6 separate regions of the Homo sapiens genome follow, and all the other regions are reported to be linked to region 3. Evidence: microRNA targets listed by miRTarBase, many of them from high-throughput screens and not tested one by one. Region 3 holds a microRNA gene; each other region holds the end of a gene's coding sequence. Distances are from middle to middle.
What was found. Region 3 holds the annotated microRNA hsa-miR-4652-3p (GUUCUGUUAACCCAUCCCCUCA, at 2,634-2,655, opposite strand). A microRNA usually pairs through its seed, bases 2 to 8, with sites in the 3' UTR of a target mRNA and lowers its output. Matches are read on the target gene's strand: a 7mer-m8 pairs with bases 2 to 8, a 7mer-A1 pairs with bases 2 to 7 and ends in A, and an 8mer does both.

Region 1: the mRNA of DNAJB6 is a reported target of hsa-miR-4652-3p. The part of its 3' UTR that is shown has no 7-base or 8-base seed match.
Region 2: the mRNA of TNRC6C is a reported target of hsa-miR-4652-3p. Seed matches in the 3' UTR shown: 7mer-A1 at 3,833-3,839, 7mer-m8 at 3,767-3,773 and 8mer at 3,268-3,275.
Region 4: miRTarBase lists MIER1 as a target of hsa-miR-4652-3p. Seed matches in the 3' UTR shown: 7mer-A1 at 2,104-2,110.
Region 5: the mRNA of SOX1 is a reported target of hsa-miR-4652-3p. Seed matches in the 3' UTR shown: 7mer-A1 at 1,797-1,803 and 7mer-A1 at 2,971-2,977.
Region 6: the mRNA of NCAM2 is a reported target of hsa-miR-4652-3p. Seed matches in the 3' UTR shown: 7mer-m8 at 2,676-2,682 and 7mer-A1 at 637-643.

The regions. Positions count from the first base shown.
Region 1 is chr7:157,415,112-157,420,353 of GRCh38, forward strand. DNAJB6 (DnaJ heat shock protein family (Hsp40) member B6) reads left to right here. Exons shown (of 10, transcript NM_058246.4): 10 at 905-2,328. The coding sequence ends at 987. Among named protein-coding and RNA genes, the nearest start is that of DNAJB6, 81 kb to the left of the region's middle.
Region 2 is chr17:78,104,159-78,109,400 of GRCh38, reverse strand. It overlaps TNRC6C (trinucleotide repeat containing adaptor 6C), which reads right to left. Exons shown (of 23, transcript NM_001142640.2): 23 at 579-4,916. The coding sequence ends at 4,556. TMC6 (transmembrane channel like 6) reads left to right here. Exons shown (of 20, transcript NM_001127198.5): 20 at 1-2,004. Among named protein-coding and RNA genes, the nearest start is that of TMC6, 22 kb to the left of the region's middle.
Region 3 is chr7:93,714,390-93,719,631 of GRCh38, reverse strand. MIR4652 (microRNA 4652) reads right to left here and starts at 2,704; the gene lies at 2,627-2,704.
Region 4 is chr1:66,983,890-66,989,131 of GRCh38, reverse strand. MIER1 (MIER1 transcriptional regulator) reads right to left here. Exons shown (of 14, transcript NM_001077700.3): 14 at 513-4,560. The coding sequence ends at 4,232. It also overlaps a transcript of SLC35D1 not described here. Among named protein-coding and RNA genes, the nearest start is that of MIER1, 62 kb to the right of the region's middle. RefSeq lists silencers at 4,359-4,559, 4,547-4,596.
Region 5 is chr13:112,068,444-112,073,640 of GRCh38, forward strand. It overlaps SOX1 (SRY-box transcription factor 1), which reads left to right. Exons shown (of 1, transcript NM_005986.3): 1 at 1-3,263. The coding sequence ends at 391. All of the region lies in intron 1 of SOX1-OT (SOX1 overlapping transcript), which reads left to right. Among named protein-coding and RNA genes, the nearest start is that of SOX1, 3.9 kb to the left of the region's middle. RefSeq lists an enhancer at 5,101-5,197.
Region 6 is chr21:21,537,182-21,542,423 of GRCh38, reverse strand. It overlaps NCAM2 (neural cell adhesion molecule 2), which reads right to left. Exons shown (of 18, transcript NM_004540.5): 18 at 1-4,578. The coding sequence ends at 4,467. Among named protein-coding and RNA genes, the nearest start is that of LINC00317, 200 kb to the left of the region's middle.

The DNA of each region.
Region 1 (5,242 bases), 64 Mb from region 3:
GGGACCCAGGCCTGCCCTGCCTGCTGCCGGCCATGTTCCCTCTGCCCAGTCATGTTGACAATTGTGGCCAAATTCAACATCGGGCCTGTTTCCTGCACCCACGTTGGCACACACTGAGTTCAAGACAGTTTCTGCAGAAATGAATCCAGAGGTGTTTATTTCTGGCACGTTGGATCAGACGTTCAGAGGGTGGGCGTCTTTCTCCATGCACTTCAGCTGGATCAGTCAGTGTCAGCCATTGACTTTAGCAACAGGGAAATGAAAGACTTTCCTCAATAAGAAATGGGACTTTCTCACGCTGGATGGCACAGAGCTGGCAAACATGAGGCCAGTCCACACCAAGGCTTTGCCTGCAGAAAGGCTGCACTGTGGCCAGCGGGGGAAGCGGAGGAGACACCTGTGGACACCCTCCCCACAGGTGGGCACACCTTTGCGCAGGCCCAGTGTGCGTTCTGAAGGAGAGCCCAGGGTGGGGTTCCGGGACTGAGGTGCAGCCGTGTCCAGGGTGGGCTTCTAGCTCTGCCGCTGGGCGGAACTGGGGTAGGTCCCAGGGTGGGGTTCCAGGACTGAGGTGCAGCCGTGCCCAGGGTGGGCTTCTAGCTCTGCCGCTGGGCAGAACTGGGGTAGTCCCAGGGTGGGCTTTTAGCTCTGCCGCTGGGCGGAACTCGGGTAGGTGGGAGTCCTCACTTCTCTGCAGGGTGGTGAAGCTCTCTGGGTAGTGTGAGCAGTTCTCAACGTGCACCTTGGAAAGCGCCCGTTTTGAGGTTTAGCTGTGGCCAAGATAGATGACTTCATTTTGTTGCTTTTTGTTCTTAACATGGGGAGATATTTAGAAAACATGTTTGGCTCTTGCTGGGGAAGCAGTGCTGTTCCGTACAGTGTTTTACAAGCCGTGTTTCCTTAGGATTGAAAGAAGGTGGCAAGAGGAAGAAGCAGAAGCAGAGAGAGGAGTCGAAGAAGAAGAAGTCGACCAAAGGCAATCACTAGACCGGACTTGAGGCACGCGGTGCACCCCCAGACGCTGGCGCTCCACCGTGCTCGGCATGCGGTCGTGCACACGCGCTAGGTAGCAGCGTCGGTCAGGACTGTCTCGAGGCCACACTCGCTCGGCAGGATTATGCGATCACGGATCAGTCAGAGCAGGGTCAGGAGACGGGGCTGACGGCACGGGTGGCGGGGACAGACGTTTGGGACTTGGCCGCGACTCTCTGCTTCTCTCCAGCTCTCAATCTGCTGCATTTTCCTCTAGTGCTTCCGGATCCTCTTCATTCTTTTCGGCTACTCAACCACTCCGCATGCTGCTGGAATATTTCTGGCTTTAGAAGTACAGGAGGGCGCAGATGGCTAACTGAGTAACATTCATGAAATGAGGCTTTCTGTGGCGGCGTAGTGTTTGGAATTAGAAGGTAATTCAGTAGAGTGTAACTTAGAGAATATTGCAAGTGACACATTGAATCCTGCCCGTCAGGGCACCTTTTCCTCAGAGCAATCCGGCCACACGAATAGAAGGCTGTCGTGAATCACATCAGATGTAAAATCATTCCTTCTGTTTACTCTTTTAATTTTCATCCTTTGCAGGTAGTGCAAATTCAACTTCAAATATGGTGTAGGTTTTGCTAGATTCCATATTTTTTTCTTGGATTTTTGCTAATTATTTTTAGCAAAAAATTTTTGCTCAGTGGCACTCTCCCTAGTGTCCATGGGTTAGGGCCATGCTGGGGAAAACGGGCCGGTATTTACACACGCGCAAAACACCCAGAGACGGCACAAGGAGGTTGAACTCATGTTTCAGTTCGCGAACATTGACTCCTTACGAAAGTCACTTCATTCTAACTAGATGCGCCCACTTCCGGTCATTATTTCGTTTGCATGATGTATTGCTTCTTCACGTTTTGTTTTTATTGAGCACGGAGTAGAATTCCAGGGCTGCCTTGACTTCTTCCCTGCATGCTCCCTCCCAGTGACTTTCCTTCCCTTTCACATGAGGATCTGCCGTTCATGTTGCTTTCTCCTTTGTCCTCTTGGACTTGAGGGCATTGTGAAAAGCTTTGCTGTGATTTAAAAATGCCAGCAATTTTAATCTAGCAGTGTTGAAGCTGGGAATTTTTTGGCGCAATCCATGTAGCAGTGACCCAGGCTTGGGAGCCAGAAACAAGTGTGACCTGGGATTTTATTTAACACAACTGTTGCCAAAGAGTTGGCTTTGTTTATTTGGTTTTGGCGGGGAGAGGAGTGGTATTTGATGCTTTCTGTGGACAATGTAACCCTAAACACATCATGTATTTTAAATGCCACCTACATAAATAAAACATAAGCATATTGAATACAGCTCGCCTGCTGTCCTTTGTAAGCGCCAGTAAGTTGCACCGTTAAGACTGACTAGAAATAAAAGCAATTCTTCAACATTACGATTACAAAGGATGAAAGTGGTGTTTTGCAGGCAGAAGCCTTGCTTCCGAAATGCGTCACTGTAAGGCGAAAACATGACTTTAAAGCTAACACCCCCGGCTGGGCAAAGTGGCTCACGCCTGTAATCCCAGCACTGTGGGAGGCCAAGGTGGGCAGATCACCTGAGATCAGGAGTTCAAGACTAGCCTGGCCAACATGGTGAAACCCCATCTCTACTAAAAATACAAAAAATTAGCCGGGTGTGGTGGCACACGCCTACAATCCCAGCTATTCGGGAGGCTGAGGCACGAGAATTTCTTGAACGAGGGAGGCGGAGCTTGCAGTGAGCCAAGATCGCACCACTGCACTCTAGCCGGGAGACAGAACGAGACTCCGTCTCAAAAAAAAAAGGCCGGGCACGGTGGCTCACGCCTGTAATCCCAGCACTTTGGGAGGCCGAGGCGGGTGGATCACGAGGTCAGGAGATCCAGACCATCCTGGCTAACACGGTGAAACCCCGTCTCTACTAAAAAATACAAAAAATTAGCCGGGCGTGGTGGCGGGTGCCTGTAGTCCCAGCTCCTTGGGAGGCTGAGGCAGGAGAATGGCGTGAACCCGGGAGGCAGAGCTTTCAATGAGTCCAGATTGCGTCACGGCACTCTAGAGAGAGCGAGACTCTATCTCAAAACAACAACAACAACAAAAAAGTAACACCCCAACGCACAGATGAGGTGGAAACTCCCGCAGCCTTCACAGGAGGCATTGAGGGTCCCGAGAGGAAAACCTCGTCGACTCACCCTGGCTCTGCTGGCGACCAAGACTGGGCCAGACACGCGCTCAGTGCTGACATCCTGGCGTCCGGCCTTCCTGGTGACAGGGGAAGGCGGTGCAGTAAGTCGCCTTGCGGGCCGGGGTCGGGGGTGTTTTTAAAACAAGATTAGTCCTTCTCAACTGCTCAGATCCCAGAATCTGCTGCTGAGATTGTGGCGAGGGAGGCAGGTGGTTCGACAGGTTTAGAGGTGACTGTTGTGCCCTCAACCCTGCCCACTTGACCCTCAGGCCGTCCCAGGAGCGTGGCCGGGCTGCCTCAGCAGGGGCACAGCTAGGGAGCGTGGACAGAGCCGCGAGCGCCTTCCAGACAAGCCAGGCCACACACAAGACAGGCTCTTGGCAAAGGGGCCAGAGCCCCGTCTTCACACGGCCTGGCTACCGAGTCAGCTCATGTCACAGGTGGGTCCTCCCTTCGCTGAGAGGGAGAGACCCCGACCCCAGGAGGAGAAGGGAGCTGGTGTCCATGGGGCCCGGCAGGTGCATGGCCAGCAGGTAGGCATCTGCTTCTCAGGTGAGGAGGGGTATTGGGGTCTACCCGACCCCTGCGCCCAGCGCCCCATCCCCCTAGGGCGGGTCCAGGAGCTCTGTGCTGCAGATAGAGCCCGCGGCTGCTTATGCCAGCGTCTGCTGAGGGGGTGGATGCTGCAGATAGAGCCCGCGGCTGCTTATGCCAGCGTCTGCTGAGGGGGTGGAGAGGGAGCCCGGCCCCTGGGTGTGCTCGGCAGCTGCTGAGATGATGGCAAGGGGGAGCGCGGCACCTGTCGTCGTCACCTTTGTGACGTCCCAAGCACTGGGGGGCCCTGCGGGGGGTGGGGAAGGCAGTGAGGTGCTGGTGGGTGGGAGGCAGGGGGGCTGTGGACGGTGTGGCAGGGACTGCAGTTGTGGGACTGGGGTGGGGAGTCCTGGGGGTGTCAGGACCACAGTGGGGCTTCCTGGCCACCCCACTGCCAATCCCAGGGCCACCCTGTACGCCATTCACTTTTGTCAGGGGCATAAAGGGCTGCAGAACCCACTTTCTGTAAGTAAATACATTTAAACATCCTGAAACGTTCACACCCTAACCCTAACCTGGGGGTCCCACGTGCCTTCCCTCATGTGGGTTGCACAGCTGGAGACAGAACCAGGACGTGGCGCCGTCACCAGGGAGAGCTCTCTGCTCTTTTGTTCATAGGCCTGGAAAAGTGGGACCATGACGTGAATAACCACACCTGTGTTTAACACATTTTGTTTTGTTTTTGTTTGTTTGTTTTTTTGCAATGGAGTCTCACTCCGTCACCTAGGCGGGAGAGCCGTGGCACCGTTATCACACCTCAGAAAATTAGTAATTCCCCCATGCCAGCTACTTCTCAGTCCATTTTCAGAAACTATTTACTTTTATTCTTTTCTTTTTTGAGGCAGAGTCTCACTTTGGCACCCAGGCTGGAGTGCAGTGGTTCAATCATAGCACACTGTACCTTGATCTCCTGGGCTCAAGCGATCCTCCCACCTCAGCCTCCCAACATGCTGGGGCTACAGCTGTACCACCATGCCTGGCTAATTTTTAAATTTTTTATAGAGACAGGATTTCACCATATCATCCAGGCTGGTCTCAAACTCCTGGGCTCAAGCAATCTGCCTGCCTCAGCCTCCCAAAGTATTGAGATTACAGGCGTGAGCCACTGTGCCTGGCCCGTAATTTTTTTGTTTGTTTTTTTTTTTTTTTTTTTTGCAGGAGACTGGAGTTTTATTGTTACTCAAATCAGTCTCCCCGGGCTGTGATGTTTTTAAACTAGACTTCAGTCAAGACTACACATTGCATTTAGTCGTCACGTGTATTAGGTCTCTGTACGCTTTTACCTTTTATTATGAAAAATCTTAATGTCCAAATTGTGTGCTTGGAACAGGTAACTGTAGAAATGAATCCCTCTCCCTGGCCCAGAGGTGCACAGCGCCCGCCCCTCTTGTGTATCTGCACCCCCTCCCCATCATGTTTTTTTGTTTTTGTTTTTGTTTTGAGACAGAGTCTTGCTCTGTGGCCCAGGCT
Region 2 (5,242 bases), not on the chromosome of region 3:
AGAGCTAAGCAGCTTTGTTTCCACGTGGATCCTGCGTAGGTTTTCTTGGTCCATCCGTAGACACCGCACTCCTGCAGAGGATCTTCTCGGGATGCCCCACTGTCTCTGTTTTCCCTCTTCACTGAACACTCAGTCGGGGCTCGCCATGATGCCTCTGTGTCTGCTGGCTTCTCCCCCATTGGAACAGCCTTCTTGGCACGCCACACTGCTAGCTGCTGGGCACTGTGCTTTCTGCCTTTACCGTTCTGCCGTGATGTTGCCAAAATAGCAGCAACAACAACAACAACAAAGGCTGGGCACCTGGCTCATGCCTGTATTCCCAGCAGTTCGAGATCAGCCTGGGCAACATGGTGAGACCCTATCTCTACAAAAATAAAAAATGAAATGAGCTGGGTGGGGTGGCGCATGCATGCCTGTGGTCCCAGCTACTTGGGAGGCTGAGGTCGGAAGATCGCTGGAGCTTAACCTTGAGGTCAAGGTTGCAGTGAGCCGAGATTACATCACTGCACTCCAGCGTGGGAGACAGAGACCCTGTATTAACAAACAAAAACACAAACCACAAAGGGCAGGTCTGAAACTGCCATTTAAAAAAAAATTTAATAAACTTAAAAAAATATATATCCACAGATGCAGGTGAAGAACCTGTTGTCTTCCTCAAGCCTCTTTTTCACCCATGGGTGGAAATGGTGCCCTGGACACCCAGGCCCACGAGGTCTTTGCGTGGGGTCCCTACACAGGGCTTTAGCTTACACTGTGCTGCCCTCCTGTCCCCCGAGTTCCCAGTCTGTCAAAATCCAACCTGGTCTCCCAGGCCCAGGGCAAATGCCACCTCCTCCATGAAGCCTGCCACATCCTTTGCACACCCTTGGGCGCTGACCTTGTTCTCCCAGCGCACAGGCACGGGTACAGTTTGCCCCTGTAGTAGTAACTCAGGCACAAAACGAACTCTTGCTGAGGCTCGGCCGCGCAGAGCTGAGGGTTGCCGCTTCCAGGTTCAAGTGCATTTTGAGTTTCATTCCCAGCTTCCTTCTTTTTCTGGTCTTTAATTTCTTCTCCGGATTAGGTCCCACTCAATGCTTTCCTTCTCAATTTCCAAAAGAGTATGGTCAGAGCCAGCAGCACACCACCTTCCCCATGGGTGGGGGGGGGCCAGCCTGTGGCGGGGGTGCGGGTCCCATCTTTTCGAAGGAATTGACCCACAGTGGGCGGGTCCACCTTTGACCTTGCCCCAGGGAGCGCAGACAGAAAAAAGATCCTTGCTTAGTTTGAGGGGCCGCTGGGGTGCTCGGTTTGTCTTCAGAGGCCTGTCTGTAACACCAATGCCAACCCGGTGGCACTGACTGGTCACCCTGAAGGCCACGGCCAGTGTCCTAGGAAGGGACTCAATTTCTAGCTGTGCCACCTGAGATTCTGGGGTTAGGCTGGTTGTGCTTCTGAAGTTCCACTGTGCTCAAAGTGCTTGGTGAAAGTTAGCGAAGGTGATTTTACAAAAATAGATGCATAAAATGTCTAGGAAACACAAAAAATCCTCATTACTCTTCTCTCCAAATATTTTTTAAGCCCCAACTGGACCCTAGGCAAAAGTGAGTGGCACTCCTCTGCCAGGACTCCAGGCAAGCCCCGGCATCTTCTTGCTGCCGTCCCAGACAACAGAAGTTACCAGATGAACAGACTTGGATGGGCCACGGGGGTGGAGAGCTGGAAAGCTTGGCTGTGCCTCTCGATGATGATTAAGATTTCAATATTTACAGCAAAACCACAAAGCAAATGATAGAATAAAGCAAAACAATGGAAAATCTGAGTTCACTCGTGAGAGAGGTACGTATGTGAGCTCTGAGGAAATTACAGAGGGAACGCATGCAGCGGGACAGCTCTCCCAATCGCAGCGTGCAAAGTAGACATCCATAGTGTCTTTTGAAAAATGAAAAACACATTACTTTGAACAGCCAAGAAAAAAATTGCAATTTATTAAGATTCAATAAAGCGTTGTACTTTCGAAAGCAACTTTCGATGCATGTTCTTCAACAGTCACATTCTATGAGGAAAACATTAAGAGCCACGAACTTGTTGTTTAATCTCAGAGTTACAGACATATTAAGTTCAAAATAAAAGGTAAAAAAAACAAAAAACAAACAAACAAAAAACCCCTCAAACCCAACAAAACCCAAAAACAAACAAACATATTCTTGACTTCCATCCCCAATTTTAAAACAACAGTTTTTCTACAACTCAATGCTCGCCGGCAGCACGGGAAGTGGTATGTCGGACGCACATACGCACACGCATGCTCACACGCACACATATTGGATATACATACGCAGGTGTATGTCCATCGAATATATAGAACGCATGTAATGGCAATGAGATGCAGTCACTCTGAGGAAGGTTGGTTTTTCTAAATATCCTACTAAACTTGAGAAAAAAAGTCTTGAACCCAGTTTGTGCATAGTTCATGATCCTCTATAAAACCAGCTTTTGTGGATCTGCAGTCTTGCAGGACTTTTTTTTTTTTTTTTGTATTTTTTTTGTTTTGATAAAACCATTAAAAAGCTAATTAAAAAAATGTAATGCACAAGTTTCCTGATCAAGCAGGCAGGGAGCACAATGTTCATATATATATTTTTTAAAACATACTTGAAGGTATGTTATTCCATTGTCTTTCTTCCTTGCAAAACAATCAAAACATTGATCATTTTTAAAACATAAAGCAATTTTTAATATATAAAGCACTCTTCAAACATCTATTTCTTTTGAGTCCATTATTTGGTAAATATGTAACTGCTACACATTAGAGATTAGGTATTTTTCTTCTTTGTGTTTTTTTTTCCTCTTTTTCTTTTTTTTCATTTTTTTGTTTTGTTTTGTTTTTTTTTTTTTTAAATAACATCTTCAGTGCTAGGAGTTGGGTTTAAAAATACATGAAATGGTGTGGAGCTGCCCTCGGGAGCCCTGGCTTTCCTGAGAGCGCGTCCGGCATGTGCAAGACAGTGGCCACAACGCCTGTCACCTTGACGAAGGGGCGAAAGCAATCGACAGAGTCCACGACGATGGCCGAGGGAACAACACTGTCCCGTCCCAGAGCTCTGAAGGAACGCATCTGCATTCTGAAAATAGGTTTCTTTACGACGGAAGTCTTTTTTTTTTTTTAATTCCTTTTTAAATTTTTAAAATTTTAAAGTCTGAAGGAGAAAAAAAGGTCTGTAAACAGGTGGGAGCCCAAACCCCAGGCTCCCCCAAAAGCAGTCACAACCCACGCCCAAGTGCTTGTTTCTGTTCCTTCCACGGAACCATCCATTCTTTACAAGTATCTATGGCCACAGTTCAACAACAGTTTTTTTTTTTTTTCTCTTTAACTTTATATTCCAAATGGAAAAATGGTGCAATACTCTGGTAATAATTTTCTTGCATTAGTCCACAATAAAAAGCTGCTAAAGGTAGGTATACATGTTATTTCTCCAGAGATATACACTGTACTTTTTAAACGCAGTCACAGAGTCCTTGAGTAAACATTTACACATGAATTGTCGCCAGCCCTGTCCTAGGAATTCTCTGTAATGTATAGGATTAGCTAAAGGAAGGGCGAGGACACTCAGTGCAAAGTTAGAAGCTAATAATAACAACCGTTTGACCAATGCGCCAAAAAAAAAGCGTATACTGAATACAAGGGAAAACCCACAGTTAAATCCTCACACGCTTTCAAACACACAAACACAGAAAACTGCACGCCGTGCAGGAGCACGCGCCACACATGCACACACACACACACTTCTGTTTCAACACGCACACATACACACACGTAGGCTATGAACTTAGAAATTTTTCCTAGAGCCTGTTTCTGTGTACTGATGTCAACCTGGAAGTGTAGAATTAGAAAGTGTTCACATTTCACTATTGGCCTGCTGGATTCAAGTATTTGCATGTTTGATATGTCTTTTTTTAACTTTTAAAAAATATTTTTTGGGATAAAAAAATGACATGAAAAAGTAATGAAACAAGGGTAATGTGCATAGGCGGATCCAGGGGAACAGAGAGCAGATCGCAGCCCGCGCCTTCCGCTCAGCTCCCGCCGCGGAGCCGCTCTGCGCCCGGCGGTCCACACCAGACTCTGCCCTGATTACCGGCCGCCTCTGGTCATGTGCATAATCGTCACAGGCTCATTTTAAATAGGCTTCACGTCTCCCTCCCTCCCCCACAGATAAAATAACCCTTTCCAGCCCACAATCTGAAAAGTGCCCTTCATGATAGAACTATTCTAAGCAGCTTTTATACTTAAAAAAAAAAAAAAAATCAAAATGACAACACACTATACAAACATAAGACGCACAAAATAAAAAGCTACGAGGAACATCCTGTCATTAGCATGTGACGCTGACCCACCGCAGCCCGCACTGTTTTGCGAACAGTTCGCAAGGACTGCGGCCAAGGTTCGTCTTCAGTCCTGGACAGAGGTACTCAAAAGGGCGGCCGCTGCTGGGTTCCAGCGGGTCTGTGGGGCCGCCCAGCCGGGAGGGGTCCCGGGAGGGGTCGGCTCTCCTGGTGCTGATGATGGCAGAGCCTACAGGGACTCCCCGCTGAGCAGGTCCCCAGGCAGCAGGGTGGTTAGCGGCGTGGGGCTGCCTATCACCCTGCTGTCGTCGGCGCTGGGCGGGCCCCACAGGCTGCTGGAGTACTGGGGCACCCCGCCCCACAGCAGCTCACTGCTCCCCTTGCCACCCAGGCACGGGGCGTTCCAGTGGCCAGCGTCGCTGCGTACCAGGCCATGGGAGCTGCCCGCTGCGCTGAGCCGCGGCTGGCTGGACGCGCTGCTGGACTGCCAGCTGGAAGTGGGTGGCAGCGCCTGGCCTTGGGCTAAGAAGCGATTCACTTCTTCTTCACCAGCGAACTCGGCCAGGATGGTAGTGTTTCCCAGGACGCACCTGCAACAGCAAGATGGGGCACGTGAACAGGGCCACCCCAAGTCCTGCTGAGTTCGTGGCACTGGCTTTCTCTGTATTGGGAACGGCCCCACATGGAAGCCATCCTGTGGCTTCTGTTTTGCCACTGCTATTTCCAAACCCAGACTGTGAATGTTTTGCTCAGTTCAGACTTCTAGTGGCAACATCGTACTGGTACACAGAGTACATCTTCAAGTGCGTGAACAGATCATTAAATGTGGGCTCGTTTAGGGTCAGTGTCATTTGCATCCTGGGCTAAAAACAGGAATGACTAATTTCTAGGTTCCAACGTCTCAAGTGATGTTACT
Region 3 (5,242 bases):
TAATCAGATTCATGTAAAAAATGAAGAGAGGAAAAGGAGAAGGAGTGTGCACTGTTAATTTTGGAACCCCAATTGGGATAACTCATCAATGCTCATCATCCACTAGCACGAAGCCTCATGGCTTTAACCATCATATATCCATGTGGTAGTTCCTTTGCCTGCCAGGATACGTACTCCAACCCCACACTCTATTACTTTCTCCCCATATCTAGTCATCCTTATTGCCTCACTCCTCTTAACTCTTCCATTCACCAAAATTTCCCCCACCTCCTCTCCTTTTCTAAGCTAGACTTGCTTCCTAGCCTCATTTTTAGAATTCTCCTTTCTCAAACGCCTGTTGCTGAGAAGGGAGAAGATAATCTTTAGTTTTGGAGGAAGGAGAGGTGGAAAAAGTCACTGAAATGTTGCAGTCTCCTGGTGGCAGATTATTATTTTCTTTCTTTCCTTCTGATAGTTACTTAAATTTTTTTTTAAATGTGTATTTTTAAGTCCTTTATTATGCTCGAAGAGTTTTTAAATTTTGTTATGTTTTTGTTCTAGTGAGGAAATATATTATATTGTAAAGTTAATTTTAATTATATTATCCCAATTTAGGAAATAATTTGTGAGTTTGTTTTCCTTGCTTGCTTGCTTACGGTAATTTGTGGGAAATATGTCATTCTATCACATCGATTAATTAAATATCCCTGTACATTTGTACATAGTAAAAAAAATTACTGAATAAAGCAAATATTGAAATGTCACACCCATTGGAAACATAGCACTACTATGTCATAATGATAAATCTTTTCCATACCTTCACTGGATGATTCAATTCGATTATTTAAGACAATAATTCAACATCAGAAAATTAAAGAAAGAACCAAAGTGATGACAGTAAATGCTTGGTAATGATTAGTGACTCCTTGCCAGCACACAGATTTCATCACCCGCGTAATTCTTATTTAGCATGGACCCTCTTCCAAGTTATTAGGATTCCTCAGTGATATTCAAATTGAGTAACAAAAGAAATTGGCTCAGTTTATCCTCTGTTTTTATCACTGCAAGCCTAGACATAGTGATTAATCCAGAAATAGCAATTATTTCCTATTTTCCCTAAAAATAACACTTAGAAGCTGGGCAACTCAGCTCTGAGACTCAGATTGTGCAGTTTGACATCTGATGATTATAATGTCTGCTGACCTCAAACTGTATTGTATGAATTACATAATAACCATGCATACAAAAGAAAGCAGAAATCATGAGGAATATTATAGTATAAAATCATTAATGTTATTTTCTTAATTTCTGCAGAAGTATCTATGAACCTTAACTCTGCTTATAATATTTTTGCCATAAAGTAGAATTTCTTTTCATTCCATACAATACCTCAATCTTTTCCTTTATAGCTTTCTTGTTATCACTCATAGGAAGTTATTTTGCTGAAAAACTATGTAACATTCATGAATAATTTATCTTAATTTTTTTCAGTCTCTAATATTTAATTCAGCTATAATTTTGTTATAAGGTATGTAACTTAGTTATCAAAAATATTTTTCCCTGGCAAATAATTCCTCAGTTGTCTTTTGAAATGGCAACGCCAAAATTGCTATCACCATTTTACAGATGAGTGACAGTTACTCACAGGGCTAAAGTGATAGACAGTGGTGTGGGCACCAGCTCAAACCTGCTCTCAAGAGGCAATTGCAGGTAGCATTTCTGAACTCCATATTCAACAAATTGGATATGATGGAAATACACCATGAAAATCAGCAAATACTACAAGCTTTCAACTTTCCTCCCTCCCTTCCTCCCTCTCTCCATCTTTCCCTCACTCCCTTCCTCTCTCTCCCTCTCTCTCTATTCCCCCCTCCCTTCCTCCCTCCCTCCTTCCCTTCTTTTCCTTCCTTCCATCCTTCCTTCCTCCTTTTCTTTCTCTTTCTTTCTCTCTCTCCCCATTTCTCCCCATTTCTTCCTTCTTTTTCTTTCTCTTTCTTTTGGTTCCCTCCCTCCCTTTCTTTGTTCCTTCCTTCTTTCATTCCTCTCTCTCCTCATTCCCTTCCTCCCTTATTCCCTGTTCTCCTCCTCTCCTTCCCTCCTTTTCCTAGGTTTAAGGGCTTTGCAAGTTCTCTTTAGTGCACCTGGGTTGACCTGATTTTGTTGTTCTCTACTATGTGGTTTGGGATGTGGTTTCAAAACTCATACCACCGCAACTTATTCATTCATAAAGATCTCTATTTCATTTGAGTAATCATTATGACTTATTGTAGCACTGGAGGACTGAGGAGTGCTTTGGGGCCAGAGGTTGGGTAATACTTAAGAGGAGGTGTTGTCAGCTGTTTGTTAGAAGAGAGACTTGCTGTCTGAAACTCAGTGAGTTGTTGCCTACAGGTCAGTAGCAAGGCCAGGAACATGACCTTGGATTTAAGATTTTCTGTCTTTTCAATGGAAACAATATGCTGACCATTTCTTTCACTTCGTAATCCTTCATCACATAGTCTCCCTTCAGAAGGTCTTCTCAACCACCACTGACATTGATTGCAAAGATTTTTAAAATTCTCATCACTTTTTCTCTCTGGTCTGACACTAGGGGACTGCTTGTTTGGCCTTACTCAGCCTAGTTGAGCTTATATTGAGGTTTATACTCTATTAGATGAGGGGATGGGTTAACAGAACAAAATAGTTCTGGTTAGTTAGTTCTATTAACCAGTCCCCTCGTCCAATAGAGTCAAACGATTCTGAATCACTGTTGGCCATTATCACTCTCATCACTACTCCAGTCTGACCAACTTTTGCATAGTTATATATATAGTATGTAACTTAGTTATCTAAAGTATTATATATATAATATTATATATATGCATATATAGATAGATAGATAGAGAGAGAGAGAGAGAGTCTTTCTCAGTTGTCCAGGAGTACAGTGGTGTGATCATGGCTCACTGAGGCTTGGATGTCCAGGCTCAAGCGATCCTCCCACCTCAGCCTCCTTCCTGGGTAGCTGGGATTACAGATGTGTGCCATCACACCTAGCTAATTTTTAGTAAAGACAGTCTATGTTGCCCAGGTTGGTCATCAAGTTCTGAGCTCAAGGGATATTCCCACCTTGATCTCCCAAATGCTATGATTACAACAGGCCTGAGCCACTGCACCTGGCCGCAAAGCAATCTGTAATTGTTACAGCTTACCCTGTGAGGTGTAAAGTTGAATTGGAGGTGGGGAAGAAGCATCTCTGACAATACCCCACAGCTTTGTGTAATCCCACAGCTTCTTGCACAAGAGCTTGCATATAGCTGGAGTTCAAGAAATATTTGTGGATTGGATGGATGTACAAATGAATGACAGTAAAGAGGCTACATCTGACAAGGGAGGAGGAAGCTGGGCAATGAGGATCCAGGGGACACCAGTAGGGAGGTACGGATAAATCTTTGAGATGGGAGAAAGGAGAGGCTGAAAGCGATAAGGATATAGGAAGCCCGATGCAGGCAGAGGACAGAATCCAAAGAGTTGCACACAATGCAGGTGTGTAAATGTGGACATTTAACAGGGATGGCATATTTAAAGTGGTATATTTTGAGATTTTCACTTGTTTTCTTTTCACTACCAACAAAGCTGAGTGTAATGATTAATTCTTGAAGATGTCTAAGCCAGGAAAGGGAAAAGAAAGTATTCATAACTGTCAAACAATGAATAATGGACATTTATTTGACAGTTCTTGAACATTAAAATTGAGCTAAGTTCTACATTATAATATGAAGTAGTTATAATAGGCATATAATATGTTTCCAAACATTATATGCCATTACTATGATGTGAAAATAATACCAAAGATCAGTACTTTCAACACCTGAATCACTTTGTGGTTGCAGTGCGGCAATTCTATGTACTGATTGTCTCTGAGTTTTTAACAGTGTAAGATGGTATAAAAGTCATCCATGATATCTGTAGTATTATCCAACTGTGTGTCTCACCAGCTGTGTAACTTCAGGTTAGTCCTCACTACCTCTCTGGGTTTAAATTTCCTAATCTTAAAATGAGGTCCAAGCTGGAAAATCCATCAAGTTCCTTTCTGGTCTAGCATTCATTGATTCTAGGATGTAAGATTATGCCGCGTAAATATGGACAAGACTTTCTTTTTCATTCCCCTCTTTCCATGAAGACAGGCTCCTTCTCTCTTCATAAACCATGGACTTATCCTAGGTCAAGGCTTCCTGGTCCACAGGAGACCCCTGGCGGCCACCCTGGCGAATTCTCTTGATAGATGTTACCTCCCGCAGTTCCGAAATCTTTAGAGGGTTTTTGATGCCCTAGAAAGCTTCCTATCTTTGAACTCTTAACACCTACAATTGGGTTGATACTACTTTGAGTAATCTTTTTTCACATATGCACAAACCTTTCCTTTTCTCTTACAACCCTTACCCCAAGAAAATATTTTTTCTTTTCCCTTTACTCTTTAATTTCCCTTCCTGTTTTATTTCTGAAATAAAATTGGGTGATTCTTCTTTCATTATTTAAATGATTTCATTTCTAAAAAATGTAATAACTTCTTTTCTGATTACGCAAGGAGAAGCATGCTTGTTGTGGAAAATTTGATAAGTAATAAGAAAATAAATTAGACACAATACAGGCATACCTCAGAGGTATTAGTGGGTTGGTTCCAGACAAATGCAACAAAGTGAATATTGCAATAAAGCAAGTCTCATGAGGTTTTTGGTTTCCAAAGTGCATAAAAAGGTTATATTTACACTATACTTTAGTCTATTAAGTGTGAAATAGCATTATGTCTAAAAAATATATACTTTAATTTAAAAATACTTTGCTGCTAAAAAAATGCTGATGATCATCTAAGCCTTCTGTGACTCATAATCTTTTGGCTGGTGGAGGGTCTTGCCTCAATGTTGATGGCTGCGGACTGATCAGGCTGGTGATTGCTGAAGGTTCTGATGGCTATGGAAATTTCTTAAAATAAGACAGCAATGAAGTTTGCTACATCAACTGATGCATCCTTTCATGAAAGATTTCTTTATGGCATGTGATATTGTTTGATAGCATTTTACCCACAGTAGAACTTCTTTCAAACTGGAGTCAAACTTCTCAAACCCTGCTGCTGCTTTATCAACTAAGTTTGCATAATATTTTAAATCATTTGTTTTCATTTCAACAATGTTCAGTATCTTTCACCAGAAGTAGATCCCATCTCAAAAAAATACTTTCTTTGCTCATCCATATGAAGCAATTCATCATTCACTGAAGTTTTATCATG
Region 4 (5,242 bases), not on the chromosome of region 3:
ATGGTAGAACCAGCTCTGCAGGAAATTTTTTTTTTAAAAGACAAAATTTCTTAGGGAAAATCATGCATTTCATGTTGGTTAATTTCCAGCAAATACGAAGTTTGACAAAAGAAAAATATTTAGCTAGACTTACATGGCAAAGAGGAAGGTAAACTCATTTTCTTGAGATCGTGCCTATTCCTCTTTTTGCTGTCTCTGTACTCAGAATACACTTTACTTTTCTACCATTAACACTTTGCTGCCTTCTTGAAGAACAGGGCATGCCGCATCTCTGAAGCCACAAGCCAAGCAAGCATAGTACCTGGTACAAGTATAGGCCGAAATATTTGCTGGATATTAGAGTATATGGAAACATAATGAAAGCTTGTCATCATTGACATTTAAATGTGAAACTGTCACCATCAATTTGGACAATTAGAATCCATCTCATCTCGTTTACATGGCAATTCTTCAATATTCTTCACAGAATAAGTAGCCTTTAAAAGTGTGTTCAAATTACTTCTTACTCAAGAGCAAGCAAAATGACATTTTAATTACATTATACATTCTATAATTCTTTATACTAACTAAAGACAAATTGAAAATAATCATATTCTGAAAAGGAAAAACTCCACGTCCGTATAGTTGGCAAAAGATCAGCACAATACTAAGGGTACATGACAAGAGTTTATGGAAAACTGGTATTAGAAAAGAAAGGTTAATCAGATATTCAGATACATGAAATCAGTCTGTAAGTGGGTGGATGGATGTGTGGAAAACCCTTTAAGATTCTGCAAAGGATGAACTTGATATTAAAGAAGAGAGTTAATTTTTACGGTAAAAAGTTGTATCAGTAGAATTATGTGATACAGAAAAAGTCATTTTGAGAGAAGAGAGTCATTTTTAGAATAAAAGGTTAAAATTTGGAAACTCCTGTTCTTCTGTATGTTACATGGTTTTCCACACTGGCATTTTTCATGAATATGGATTATAGTTGGGAAAACCTTACTATCTGATTTGGTATTTAGTTACACACCCCATGTAAATATTGCCTATTATATTCACCAGCCCTCAGTTATTCCAAGTGCCCACTCCTAATTATCCATCGATAGCAAAGAAAATATTGTGACAAAACAAGTTTTATTTTGCAAAACATAATGTGATATGAACTCCACTACAAAATACGGGAACACATTATTTTTAAATTATATAATCCAGCAGAAGAGAAACAGAGTGAATGGAGGTCTAGGGACTGAAAGGATCTCTTGTGGCAAAGGGGAAGAAGACAAAAATACATCACCCAAGATGTGGTAAAGGGGACCAAGAACCACTGAAAAAGTAGTGCAATATGTCTAGGAATAGAAGAAACAGACTGTGTATATATATATATTTGCCTTGTCAATAACATGCATCATTCAAACAATCTCTAATAAAATCTTAGTGAATTAATCTAATGAAAATATTCACACAGTATTATGTAGGCAAATATGTTTAAAAAAATATTTTAATAAGCATATTCAGAATGGCAGACAAGGAATGGGAGAAGGGAATTATTTTACAGTGCAAAATTACTATGCATAAATTTAACATCTAATTTGAAATTTTAAATGCCTATTTAAATATTACTTCAAATACATTTTAAAGCTCAACAAACTTGTGTTGAACTGAATTGCAGATCCTGAACTCTATTTGAAAATACATCATGAAACAGAAAATACCCATTCCAAATGAAAATGATAGTGCTTTGTTGGGGGTGGGAATGAGGCGGGGAGACTAAATCACTATTAACAGACTTCTTTTTCCAATGCAATTTGTCAAAAGTTCAAAAGTTCTGAAATGTACTAAATCTTAAGCAAATTAAATTCATGATATTACTAAAACTTTTTAAATAGTGCAATGACTTATCAAGTTATAGTGGCTGCATTAAGAACAAATTATTGTGTGAAATACCTGTATAAACACAAAATACAATTAAATATTTCTTTACAAAAAGCTGAGCATTACGCATAATAGTGGAATGTCTTTCATTAGGTGTATTTTTTAAAGATTAACAAAAGTAACATTTCCTAAAATGTATACATGTGCCATATTTTTGCAAACATGCCTGAGAATGTATTTAAAACATTTCTGTAGTAAGAGTTTGCAAGAACTTCACAAACCTGCAAATAAAATGCATCTTTTTAAAAAGGTGAAAATGGCATCTCCAACACTGCAACAATTCAAAAAGTACAGCATCCCTAATCTTTAAAAACATTTCTACAGACCATCTTTGACAAAGAGCTAGGATACTTTGGATTCATTTAATAAAAAATGATTTAGAAAACAGATTGTGACCATCTGCTTGCTAAAGCTACTGCCATTCTGGATAAATTAAAAGTTTTAAGTAAAACAAAAACAACAAAAAACTCATACTTCTCAACACTTCCACCCAAAACTTTGATTTACTTAGATATGTATGTAACAACAGTGAATGTACATTAAGATGAAGTCAAGTGTTGCAAAGTGGCTTTTAACACTGTTTGGGAAAAAAAGTTGTTCACATTGGTGAAGGGAAGCAGTCCGAACATATGTTAACAGTAATACTTCATGGGGGTAAGGCCTGAATGCTAATTTCTCAGTGCAAACCTTCACTCAATTACATCAGACAGTTGAGCCATTAAAAACAAGACCACAGAAGCTTTATTTTAAAAAGGCATTGGCTCTTGAACTGATGGCTGAAAAATGAACTGGAAGAAGCATTTGGAGTATGCCTGTGTGAGAAAAACAAGAATAATTAATATTTTATAAAAGTTTGGATATAGGTTGGTCTATCAGCTATATAAAACTACATTATTTAACAAGAATTTAGCACTAAAAATAAAATGGCACTTTTACAAGGCTATGCAGATGGATAATCCTATCTGTAATCACACAGAGCAATGATTATTGTGTATCTTATTTTCACTTTGGAAAAGCATTATCAAATCTGAAAAATTGGATTGTAACTAGAAAAGTTTGAAAAGTTTTCAAACTTCACTTTCTCTTCATAAAATCGATACTGCCTGCCAACAGTTGTTCCTTGTGTGTGCCAATATCTAAGTATCACTTGACCCCCCTCCTCTGTTTATTTAATGCAGAAATGGGAAATTTTATGATGCATATAAAAATAACAGGATTCTGGTCAGCATGATATATTTAAGCACTTAAGCTGACATTAAACTTTTGTCTTGCTTCAAAAATAATTTTGAAAATTATAGCAAATGCAAAACAAACTGCAATCTAAGCATCATGCTTAATTTCAGAATTCTCAAATTACTTGCCCTTAAGTAGAAATTTAAAAAAAAAAAAAAAAAAAAAAATTTTATAATCCTTTATGAATGCTTTAACCACCTGGATAAGAAATATGACTTAATTACTACACAAACACTTAAAAATTCATTAGAAAAACCTTAGCAAAATAAAATGAAAGCTGACAGACTCAGAATAACAATTCCTCTCATAAAAGTTTACCAACTGTACAAGTTAAGAAAATTATACACGCTTTTGTATTAAGAAAGGACAGCTCAGTCAAGACATATGTACTGTAAAAATCTTTCAAAGGCTACAAAGAATCTGGAAAAATACAGAATGTATTTCTTAAGCCCAGATAAGAATATGGAAAGACATCATTGATGTCAACAATTTTACATATACAAACCTGACCTGGTTTATTTTTAAACTTCTATATATAAAAAAATCATGCTAGCATAATTTTCAGGATTCGTAAGGGTTTCCTTAATAAAGATACTCAAACTGTTTGGTGAGAAAAATGTCTGTTTTAAAGACATTTCAAGAAACTCAGAGAAATTGGTATTAAGCAGAAATTTGGACTTGAGTTTCCCATTCATCCATCAAACTAAGCAAAAATTACCTTGTAGTGAAATTTTATGATTAATACATCAAATGAGAAGGTACAGATACATCTTTAGTTCATTCAGATTTACCAAAATTAGTAAATCTGAATGAACTAAAGATATTCAAATGAGAAGGTAGAGATATATCTTTAGTTCATTCAAATTTACTAATTTTTAAAATACCCTTAAAAGAGTCTGACAGCTTTAAAGTAAAAAAATCTGCAAAAGGCAGAATTATGAAACCTCATTTCCTAAAGTTAAGACTCAATTCAAATTTTCAAACTGCTTCAAGGAAATCAACTTTTTAAGGTAACCCATCAACCCTGAAAATTTTAGTCACACCAGAATTTACTCCAAAGAAAGTAAAATAGGTCTAAAATTTAGTCATCTGTGTTTTCAAGTTCTTCAAATTTCCCATGTGAGACTGCTTCTTGGAAAAATTCAGAAGAACCTGGACTTTCTTTTCCATTGCTGTTTACCCTTCGCCTTTTGGCAGGTCTCTCACTTTTTTCATCAAAATCATTTTCATTTCTTGCAGTCATATGGGCAAGTTTTGGGTCAGTGGTAAGGTTATCTGTTTCATAACCATTAGTATCCATATCTGCATGAAGTGGTTTCTTATTTCCACCTGTTGGTCCATTAATGTGTAACCCTTCAACTTTTACTTCCTCTTTGTTTAATATTTCACCTGGTCCATTAGATGACACTCCTAAGTTGAAAGAAATATAAATGAAACCACAATTAGAAAAAAGTTAAATTTGCAAACTATTATAAAACAGCTTGTAGTTATTGTTATCAAGGAAGCAAGGTATCAAATACATAGTCTAAATTCTTGCTCTATTACTTATAAGCTATGTCGCCTTAGGCAAATTATTTACTCTTTCTGTATCTCCATTTCATTACATATATACAATGAAGATCATAATAGATATTCCTCACAGGGTTGTTGTGAAAATTAAATAAGTTAATAAATGTAAAGAACTAAGAACAGAATTTGGCATATGTTAAAAGCATATTAGGTATATGTGACAGCAAACAAGCACTGGATCCAGCAGTCTAACTAAGCTGAATTAATGGAAAATGCAGTAAATTACTCAGATTTAACAAAAGGTTTTCAACATTCTAAAACCACGTAAAAGCAAGATGAATGCTCTTTCTTTAAAAAGCTTGAGTAAACTGCCATATAAAAGCAAGATGTCATGACTTTTTTATTCTTAATGTAAATCTATGGGAACTGTACTTTAAAAGATCACACAAGGCTGGGTGCAGTGGCTCACGCCTGTATTCCCAGCACTTTGGGAGGCCAAGGCGGGTGTATCATGAGGTCAGGAGTTCAAGACCAGCCTGGCCAATAGGGTGAAAACTTGTCTCTACTAAAAATACAAAAATTA
Region 5 (5,197 bases), not on the chromosome of region 3:
GCAGGGCTACATGAGCGCGTCGCCCTCGGGCTACGGCGGCCTCCCCTACGGCGCCGCGGCCGCCGCCGCCGCCGCTGCGGGCGGCGCGCACCAGAACTCGGCCGTGGCGGCGGCGGCGGCGGCGGCGGCCGCGTCGTCGGGCGCCCTGGGCGCGCTGGGCTCTCTGGTGAAGTCGGAGCCCAGCGGCAGCCCGCCCGCCCCAGCGCACTCGCGGGCGCCGTGCCCCGGGGACCTGCGCGAGATGATCAGCATGTACTTGCCCGCCGGCGAGGGGGGCGACCCGGCGGCGGCAGCAGCGGCCGCGGCGCAGAGCCGGCTGCACTCGCTGCCGCAGCACTACCAGGGCGCGGGCGCGGGCGTGAACGGCACGGTGCCCCTGACGCACATCTAGCGCCTTCGGGACGCCGGGGACTCTGCGGCGGCGACCCACGAGCTCGCGGCCCGCGCCCGGCTCCCGCCCCGCCCCGGCGCGGCGTGGCTTTTGTACAGACGTTCCCACATTCTTGTCAAAAGGAAAATACTGGAGACGAACGCCGGGTGACGCGTGTCCCCCACTCACCTTCCCCGGAGACCCTGGCGACCGCCGGGCGCTGACACCAGACTTGGGTTTTAGACTGAACTTCGGTGTTTTCTTGAGACTTTTTGTACAGTATTTATCACCTACGGAGGAAGCGGAAAGCGTTTTCTTTGCTCGAGGGGACAAAAAAGTCAAAACGAGGCGAGAGGCGAAGCCCACTTTTGTATACCGGCCGGCGCGCTCACTTTCCTCCGCGTTGCTTCCGGACGGCGCCGACCGCCGGAGCCCAAGTGACGCGGAGCTCGTCGCATTTGTTATAAATGTAGTAAGGCAGGTCCAAGCACTTACAAGTTTTTTGTAGTTGTTACCGCTCTTTTGGGTTGGTTTGTTAATTTATACAAAGAGATTACCACCACCACCCCCTCCTTCAGACGGCGGAGTTATATTCTGGGTTTTGTAAAACTTTATGTATCTGAGCATTTCCATTTTTTTTTTTGGGTTTTGTATTATTTCTTGTAAATGCATTGTGAAAAATTTTATTTTCGGCGTTGCAATGCGGGGAGGAGAAGTCAGATTATGTACATAGTTTTCTAAAAAGCCTTTCTTCTAAAAACGAAAAAAGACCCCCCACCCAAAATGTTTCGAGTCAACAAATTTAAGAGACAGAGCCCATTTTCTCCATAAATTTGTAACATGCTATTTTTATGTGCATGTTTTATGAGTTCAAAATGCAATGAGGAAATCTGACAGGGAAATTATCTGTATGAACTAAAAGTAAGGGAACCCCGGGGAATGGGAGGACAGGATTTTTCAAGGAACCTTTTTCAATGAAAGAGAAGGAAGTTAAAACCTATAGGTTATTTTGTAGAGCTGAGTGTTAATACGGGCCGAGAAATAAAAGTATCTTCTGCTCCGGCTGTTTCACTGCGGACGGCTGGGGCTGCTGCGCGTTACCTTGCTGCAAGCGGGGCGCCTTCCACCTGGCTGGGGGTCTGCGCCACAGTTTGGTCCAGAGGAGGGAGGAGGAAGGGAAGACCCCAGTGGTGGGACCCTGGACCAGGCCATGGATGAAGGACAAAGACCAGGGCAGGTCACGGGTTTCCCAATTCCCCAGCAATTAAGATTTCGAGCAGAATTTATCTAAATGTGTTTCAAGGAAACACAATCGCTGAACCAAAACGTACTGCAGCCGAGCCCCCTCCGTCCATCCTCTGCCCCTCCCCCTGGCTTCTTTCTCTTGGGAAAACGGGCAAAATAATTGTGCTGGATTCTCACACACACAGAAATATCGACCATCACCCTCCCCCGCGTGAACTGGGATGCAAGTTGCTAACCGATGTGAACGCAAAATGCCTTGTTCATTATTCCTGACGAGATCTTGAGGTTGTTTGATGCTTTAAATTTTTTAATTATATTATTTTCTAGGTGTTTATTGGTACATTGCAGTTTTTTTTTTGAAATTTAAAAATTTCTGTAAAACTTTGTCTTCAAGTAATCTGACAGCATTAAATATTGCATTTAAAAATTATACTGTAGCAAATACATTTAAAAATTAATCACAACGTTAAGATGAAATTATATTTTTGGAAAAAAAAAACACTTGAAGCCCAGATGGAAATACGTTTATTTCAGCAGCCTTAGGTTTCCCCTCGCTTTCTCAACACCCTTCCTTGTCCTGGAGTATGGACTGTCCGTCCAAAAGTGAGCCTATGCTATAAGTTTAATGAGAACCGAATTCAGCCTGCATTCGAGAATAGCTTTAAGTATAATGCTGATCTGACAATTGACGTGTAATTTGGGAAGTCATTTTGATAATTTTGCTTAAACCACTCATTCGTTAAAGTGATTACAAAAAAGTTCAAGAATGATGTCCACTGCTTTCTAACAAGATAATAAACCCCCCCCCTCTTTTCTTTTTCTTTATTTTTATTTCTTTTAGCTATTTGATCCTTTCTGAAGCAGTTGTTTCTGGAAGAGTCTGTGCGCCCATGGATGGCTGAGCACCACTACGACTTAGTCCGGGATAAGGGCCTCCCCAGTCCTCTCCGGGAGATGATTTGGGAAATTTTATAATGCTTGTTCTGTTAACTCACCGGGACCTTGAGGGTCCAATGGGACCTTGAGGGTTTTCTCTGAAATATACAAACTTAAAGGACTCTCTCTGAGGTTCTTTGACTGACGTCCACTCTCAGTCTGGCCCCTGTGCTCCCCTGTGTGTACCCTGGAGTTTCTGTGTCCAATTGTTGGCATCTAGGTCTTGGCTCAAGATTAGGATGTGGGCCCCACTTTAGAGGCACAGACTATGAAAAGCTGAGTTAGTGCGCCCGGGACGCCAGGCAAGCAGCTTTTACAGTTTGGCATCTTATTGCAGGTGCTTCGTGCACAGTCAGCTGAAATAGCCAATGCCAGGTGCTCCAACCACCTTATTTCCTTGTTTTGTTGATTAGAACAACACAGAAAAAAGCAAATATAAATTTTTAATGACTCCATTTAAAAATATCACAGGGTGGGGGCAAGGAAATTAGCTGAGATTCATCTCAGGATTGAGATTCTATCCCCCCTTCCCCGCCCCCAGCAGTGTCGCTCCAATTCAAATTAGTGGAGAAAAGATTACAGTAGGCCCTGAGCCGACTGTGAATTCGGTGCTTGGCCAAGGTAACACTCATCGTATTCACGGAGTGAAATACTATATGATGATAGTTATTATATTATATGACGACTTCATTCACTTCCCAAATCACAGGGTGGTGCTTCTGTCGCTTAGTCCAATTATGTTTGCAACCCGTGTAGGGAAGGCGGATAGGAGTCTTTGAGGCCTAGTGCAAAGTTTGCATCAGTTTCTGCGGGGGCGACAGTGTGACTTCGTAAATCTGCCATTGCGCTCGGGCCCTGCCCTCCAAACTGAGGGTAGGAGGGTTTACTTGAGGGTTTTTTTGCTTTGTTTTGTTCTGTTTTTGCCTTGTTTTGTTTTTCAACTCACCCGCCCCTTTTGTTGTTGAGATTTTGACGTCCCCTTCCCCGGAGAAACCCACCCGTAACGTACTAGATGGATTAGTTTTAAAGAAGACTCGGGCACAGCGTGATCTCCAGATGCGCGTCGGGAGCGTGACTGATAGGTCTATTAAAATCACGCGTGTGGGAGAACGGCACTCATGCTCCCGCGTTTCATTCCCCCGGCAAAGACTGGGCGCCGCAGATTTCTGTCTCCGGAAAATTCCAGTTAATTCAAGAAACCCATCCCCGGACGTGTGCCCGCCCCCCCCCGAAGGCTCGCTTCAGGCCAGCCCGGACTCCAGCGCCCCCTCGACCCCGTCGGGCTCCGGCCGACTCCCGCCCCCTCCCCACCCACGCTCGGCCTGGGCCCGGGGGCAGCGGCTCCAGAGGCGTCGGCGGCAGAATTTAACCCCCGGTCTGAGTCCTTGGAAACTTCAAGTGAAAAGCAGACTTGGCCTTGGCGCGGCTCTCTTTCCAGCGTGACTATCTGGCGAGACTGAAAGGCCAGGCCAGATGGGGAAAAGTGAGCGGGGTGCGGGCCCCCAGTATCCGGCGGGGTGGGGCGGCGTCAGGACGGAGCGAGGGCCGGCGGGGGGGCTCGCGTGGAGGCCCAGGCCGGGAGGTGGGGACGCAGGGACCCCTCACCCAGTCCTCTGCTCCCGCCCGAGCCAGGCCTCGGGATCACCTCCCCTTGCCTGAGGGCGAGCTCTCCTCCTCCCTCTTCCTCCCCGCCTCCCCCGTTCTTCCCTCCCTCTCTCCCTCCTCCCTCCCCGGCCCTTCCTCTCCAGCTGCGCGCCCGCCGGGACCACGCTCCTCCCGCCCCCGGGAGCCGAGCGGCGTCTGCGGCTGGTCCGGACGTGTCCCCTCCGGGCGGGGGTGGCCGGGCCTCCTCGGGGCCTCGGGCCTCCCGGGCGCACCCCCCTGCCTGCGCCTCTCCAAGTCGCCCTTTCTCCGGCTCTGCCCGCGGCTGAGCCCCGCACACCGCGCCGCTGTCCTTGGGGTCCCGGCACACGGCGTTCCCTCCCCGCCCCCGCCATCCACTCCCACCGCCTCTCCAGTCCCTGTGCCGTCTCCACCGCCCTCTGACTCCCGCACCGAGCTGCGTCTCCGCCGCCGGCCTCTCTCAGCGCGGCCCGGCCTCCTCTTTGTCTTTGAAGCTCCCCCGCCGAGGCCCGCGCGCGGCTCCCCTCTCCGTCCCTCTCCGGCCCTTGGGCGCCCAGTCGGAGGTCGGGGCGGGATGGGGCACGAGTCTCGGGGCGGCCCGCGCTCCCCCTACTAGTCCCCTCATTGCCTCGGCCCCGTCCCCGCAGCCTCGGGGCGGGAGGGCGCAGGGGTCCCCGGGCGCCCTGGGAGCCCATCTCCCTCAGGTCCGCGCCGGTGTCAGCCGCCGGCGGGGGGCGGGTGGAGATTAAGATGAGTGCTGCGAGGGACGGGGCCGAGGGTTTTGTGTAGAAGGAGAGCAGGATTAGTGGAGAGAAAGTGCTGACCCGGGGTCAGCCGCAAGTCAAACCCTTTTACACTCAGCCGGCGGAACGAGCACGGCTCGGGCCGGACGGCAACAAGTGGGCGCGAAGGGAGGGGGAGGGGAGGCCGGGTACCGGCCGGGTCCGGCGTGAGAGAGGGGAGGGGGAGGGGACGCGGCCACAGCGCCCCAGGGCCTCAGCGTCATCGGGGACGGGCGCCGAG
Region 6 (5,242 bases), not on the chromosome of region 3:
AAATAATATATTTATGTTATAGATAAAATCCTAAAGTAATAAACTATTTTTCTAAGAATATTGTGTTATCAAATAAATATTTAGCATTATATATAATATAAAATTCTTTGCCTTTATATGAGAAGATATAATTAATCTATTCGCATTCTTGTATAATTGTAAATAGCTGCATCTACATGGGTAAATTCAATTTTTCAAAAAGGAAGGATGGGAGCTGGAAGAAAATTATGTTTGTTCAGCAACTACTATATGTGGGTCTTTTTATAAATTTCTCATTTGGACATAAAATTGTTTCATCTTAAGACATTATTAAGTCCATGAATAAAATACTTTCTTGAAAATTTTACCTTCTAAGATGAAGTATTTCATTTCTGCGACATCCATAATTTAATTTTAGCCTATGTTGATACATCCATATGCAATTTCAATGTGAGTGACTAAGTATTAATGCTTCAAAGGGTAAATAAACAGATGCAAATATTTTCTCTCTAAAGATAAATAAATAATGCTAACAAACTTATTGTTAAAAATATATCCAGATACAAAGTTTGTTGAATAAGCACATTATGTGATAATGATTATGAGTATGAGCATGAAAAAACTTCATGGGGGATTTAAGTTGAATGTTTACCTTATTTTCTGTGAAAAACAACATTGGGAACCTCATAAATAATTATAATATGCTATTCCAATATTTCCTAAATTAACTAATGGAAAATATTATTTCTACTTCTTGAACTGTACATATTTTCGTCAGTGATAATCTTATTGCCAAAAATAAAGGTTGATTTATTATTCGAAATAAAAAATATATATAAATGGAATAATGAAGACCCAAGAAACACCATAGTAATTTGCTTGATTTTCAAAAGTTATCTGTTGTCTTTGTCTTACAACTGGCAAAATTTAATTTCAACAATATCTAGAATGTATTTATTGTTTAGAAAAACAATACAGAACAGATTAAGAATATTTCATGTGTGTGTATAAAAAGAATTGTTTTGACATGAATTAAAGTAAATTATACAGTATAGTTTATTATATTTAGATTTTATATTCAAGGTAAAATAGTTTGAATTGAACTTAATTACTGACTGTAAATAAGACAGCATCATTTGAGTATCTCAAATCTAAGCAAAATATACTAGTAATGATGTTAATTGTAGTTTTTTTCTTTTAATAAAGCAGACTGTCATGCTAATTAAAAGGCACAGATACATCTTAATTATTTAAAATAAGAAGCATAAACAAAGATATGATCATAAAGTTACAATTAATTGTTGGCACACAAATAAATAATTTGATTAATAAAATCTATTTATATAAATATTTAATTCAAAGACTAAGATCCATATGAAGTGTGCTGGATCAAATAGCCTTTGAAAAATGCTTTTATAGTTATTAATATTAAAAATAAAAGAAAACAAGAAACATTAATGTTAGACATTAGTATCAATAGAATGGCAATGTCTTAGCCCACAAAAATAATAAATAAATCTTTAAAAATACAATTCTTAAATTCCTTTGACAATCATTGTAAAATATGTTGACACATTAATTTGTGTCAAAATTCTGATATTACTCTTTCCTCTTATATGTTGTTGAATACAGATTGTCACTGCCTAATTGCACCTAACCTATCAAGAAATACCAAGTTTTAGGTGATATCTTTGCCTCTTGGTTTAAAATATCATAGGGTTCAAATTATTTTAACAGTACTTATATTCAGTCAATTCTTTTGACACTTTATACTAATATTTAAGAGTACTCTCAGACAATAAAAATAACATTTATATGGTTATATGTATATGTTTGTTTAATCTAGAATAAGAATGAAACAGGTTATTTCAGTTCTACTCATATTTTACAATTTACTACAAGCCATCTTTTATTTTGAAATTTTTATAAATCATTTGGAGCATTCCATTGAAATATTAAAAAAAATACTTTATCACAGTATTGCCTTGCTTCAGCATGGCATGGATTTCAAGGACAAGAGGTAAGGACCACCCGGGCAACTGAAACAGTGCACTTGAAATAGTCTGAATATAATTAGCTTCAGATTATCTGTTAATTTCAGATCATTACTCCACATGAGTGGCAGGAAATTTAACATCATATATATATATGTATATATATGTGTATATATATATATGTGTATATATATATGAAATATATGTCAATTTCTTTACAAGGAAAATCCGAATAAATGAGAGAAACAGAAATGTCACATTGAGAAAACACAAAAATAGTTTGTTATTTATTATGATTTCTGCACTCTTGAAGTAAAGCACGAATATAACAATAGTAAACATGCGAAATGACTTTCTCAGTCATCGTATTTCTTTCACCATCATTAGTTTAAAACCATGTGGCCCTATTTAGAAATAATTAGCATTCATGGCTATTGCTTCATGGACACTTTACTAAGCTTGTACACTTTGCACAAACAAACTAATTCAAGTATTTTGACTAGTTTTAGTACACTGGTACAAAACAAAACAAACAACAAAATAAAACACAGCAAAATAAAGCAAACTGGATGATCAGACAAACATAAACTAAATATGAACAGTCAAATCTGTCAAAGACCAGTTGGATAATCAAGTCAGTTAAAATGACCTAACTGCTTTGTTTGTTTAGACACTACTCAAATTCTTAGGTAGGCACAAGAATTCTGTTCTTTTCTTCAGAATACGCCAGACAGGAACGCAAGGAGAGATTCCCGCATTTAACCCTGCAACTTATGGCAAAGACACTGCGACGATTTGGTGCCTTCAAACGAAGATGGTCATATTCTGTCCTGCTGTAGCCAGAAAAGTGATGAATTATATAAAAGTACTTAGTTTTCTCTCCTTGGCTGAGTTTCAAGCACTTTGTAAATAAAAATATTCATGAGTTGCCTTAATTTTACATTTAATAATCATCAGGTTATCTCTACAGAGAGACACACCCAGAGCAGGTTTCTGCAATGTTAAAATTGCTCCAATATTCCTTTGGAACGCATTCCCTGTCCTGTCACTATTTGAGCTATAATACCACCTGAAACACCAAAGGTTCTGAATGTTACAGGGCCTAAGGAAACCTTTGGCTCTCAAGGTTAATAAACCTGCTCCCAAATGGTATGTATGTTTATAATGATAAATACTTTTTTAAACCTTACATATAAGTTAAATCATGTGTCACTCTATTACCTCTGGGAGCTTGCATAGCTTGGAAGTAAAGAAGCATTTTATTCTGGTATAACCCTAACAAAAGATATTAGAAAGTTTGTGTTGAATACTTAAGGAATTTCTTCAACCAAAGTTGTTTATCAAAATCTTAAAATGACTTCTAGCTAGAACATCCGGAATAGAACACATAGTGGCATTTAATTATTTATCATTTACTCTTTTATGGCACATTAAAATGTTAAATAATTTCTTCTTAATTTAGTCAACCTTAAAATTTTTATTAGCCAATTATATTTAATGGTGAACCTATAACAGTGGTAAAATTAGTTCTTAAAGATTATATAAAACCATGGGCTAAAAATATATCTGAGGATATGATTTGAAGTATTTGAACACTAAAGACTTGTTTTTTGATAAATTATTTTAAAAATAAATGATAATCACATATTTATAAATATATCAAGACACCATATTGATATTGTTCCCATTTCAATTTACTTTATTTGAAGCTGAGGGCAGAAATCAATATTATTTCACTTGCAATACACTTTTTTTTGTATAATCCATTGTGAATGAATAGGACATATATAAAGAGATAGAGATTTAGAAAGTCTTTCTAATCTAATTTTATATACAACTAATATTCTTTCAAATGGGTAACAATTTTGATCTGGCACTTCAGTCTATCAAAAATCAATGTTGAAAATGCACTGAATCATAACTTGAAATGAGTTCTCCAAAGTTTTCAATTTTTAATATCTGCTAAAGATAACTGGCTCTTTGACGCCTACGTTCCCTGAAATTCCCCTGATAAAATGAGTAACCATTATTAAGCTCCTTCATCTTGAAGTTGAAAGCCACTTTAAGAATCTATTTGCCCAGAATAGGACTCATACACATGCAGGGCCTTCTTACACATGTAGCTCACGTTTTTTTTCCTTAACCCCTATATTTGTTGGTGGTATTAAATATAGTTCTTAATAAATAGAGCACTTTAGCCACATAATAAATTCCAGTACTTCAGTCATAGAATCAAATTGAATACCAAAGTGTTGGTGCCAGTCAGTCTTGATATTGAAATTCTTAACAAAATTAACAACAACAGCAACAACAACAACAATAACAAAAGGGAATGGATCATGGGCAGGAGTATTTGATCATATGTATATGTGTACAAGCTATTCCAAGCTAGAAGTTTCCCAAGAAATTAAGGTCAATGGAATAGTTTTGGTCATAGGGTCACGCAATCCAAATACTCTTCGTAGTGTTGTTCAAGCCCCTGTAATATTGTTGTTATGCTTTGCTGTCGTCTTCTTTTGATTGAATGATGTCGTTAGAAACTTTAATTTCTATAGTTTCTGGATTTAGAGCTTCTTTCCCATCTTCTTCCTTTAAAGGCAATTTTCTGGAAGATAAAAAATAATAAGCTTCATTTTCTGAGGTATTTAAGGAGACGTACCTTAACCTTTAAGTTACTGTTTTGTAAGGAAAATATGCTCCAATAATATGCTAACATTTTATATATGCTAAATAAGTTACTATTTTATAGAGAAAACGTGCTACAATAATTAGAAAGGAAAAATTAAATTTATTAACATAATATAAAATAGATTTAAAAAGATCTAAAAGAGAGTAAAAACAATTACTTGGCCTTTTAAAAATGTAATGCAGAATGATGAATGAAACAATATATTTGTAGATATAGATGCACCAAATTGCTCACTATAGGGTGGCTTAGATTTGGTAACTAGTTGTTGATCTCCAAAATATAATTACATGTTATGGAAGGTAAAATGCCAAAATATTTTTAAATGTCAATGATATGATTTATTAGCACTACGTTTTCTCCAGTGAAAACAATTAATAATTGTTGCCATATTCTGTTACATAAAATTCAGAAACCAGGCTGGGCGTGGTGGCTCATGCTTGTAATCCTAGCACTTTGGGATGCTGAGGCGGGTGGATCACTTGAGGTCAGGAGTTCAAGACCAGCCTGGCCAAAACGGTGAAACCAGGTATCTACTAAAATTACAAAAATTAGACGGAAATCACTTGAACCGGGAGGTGGA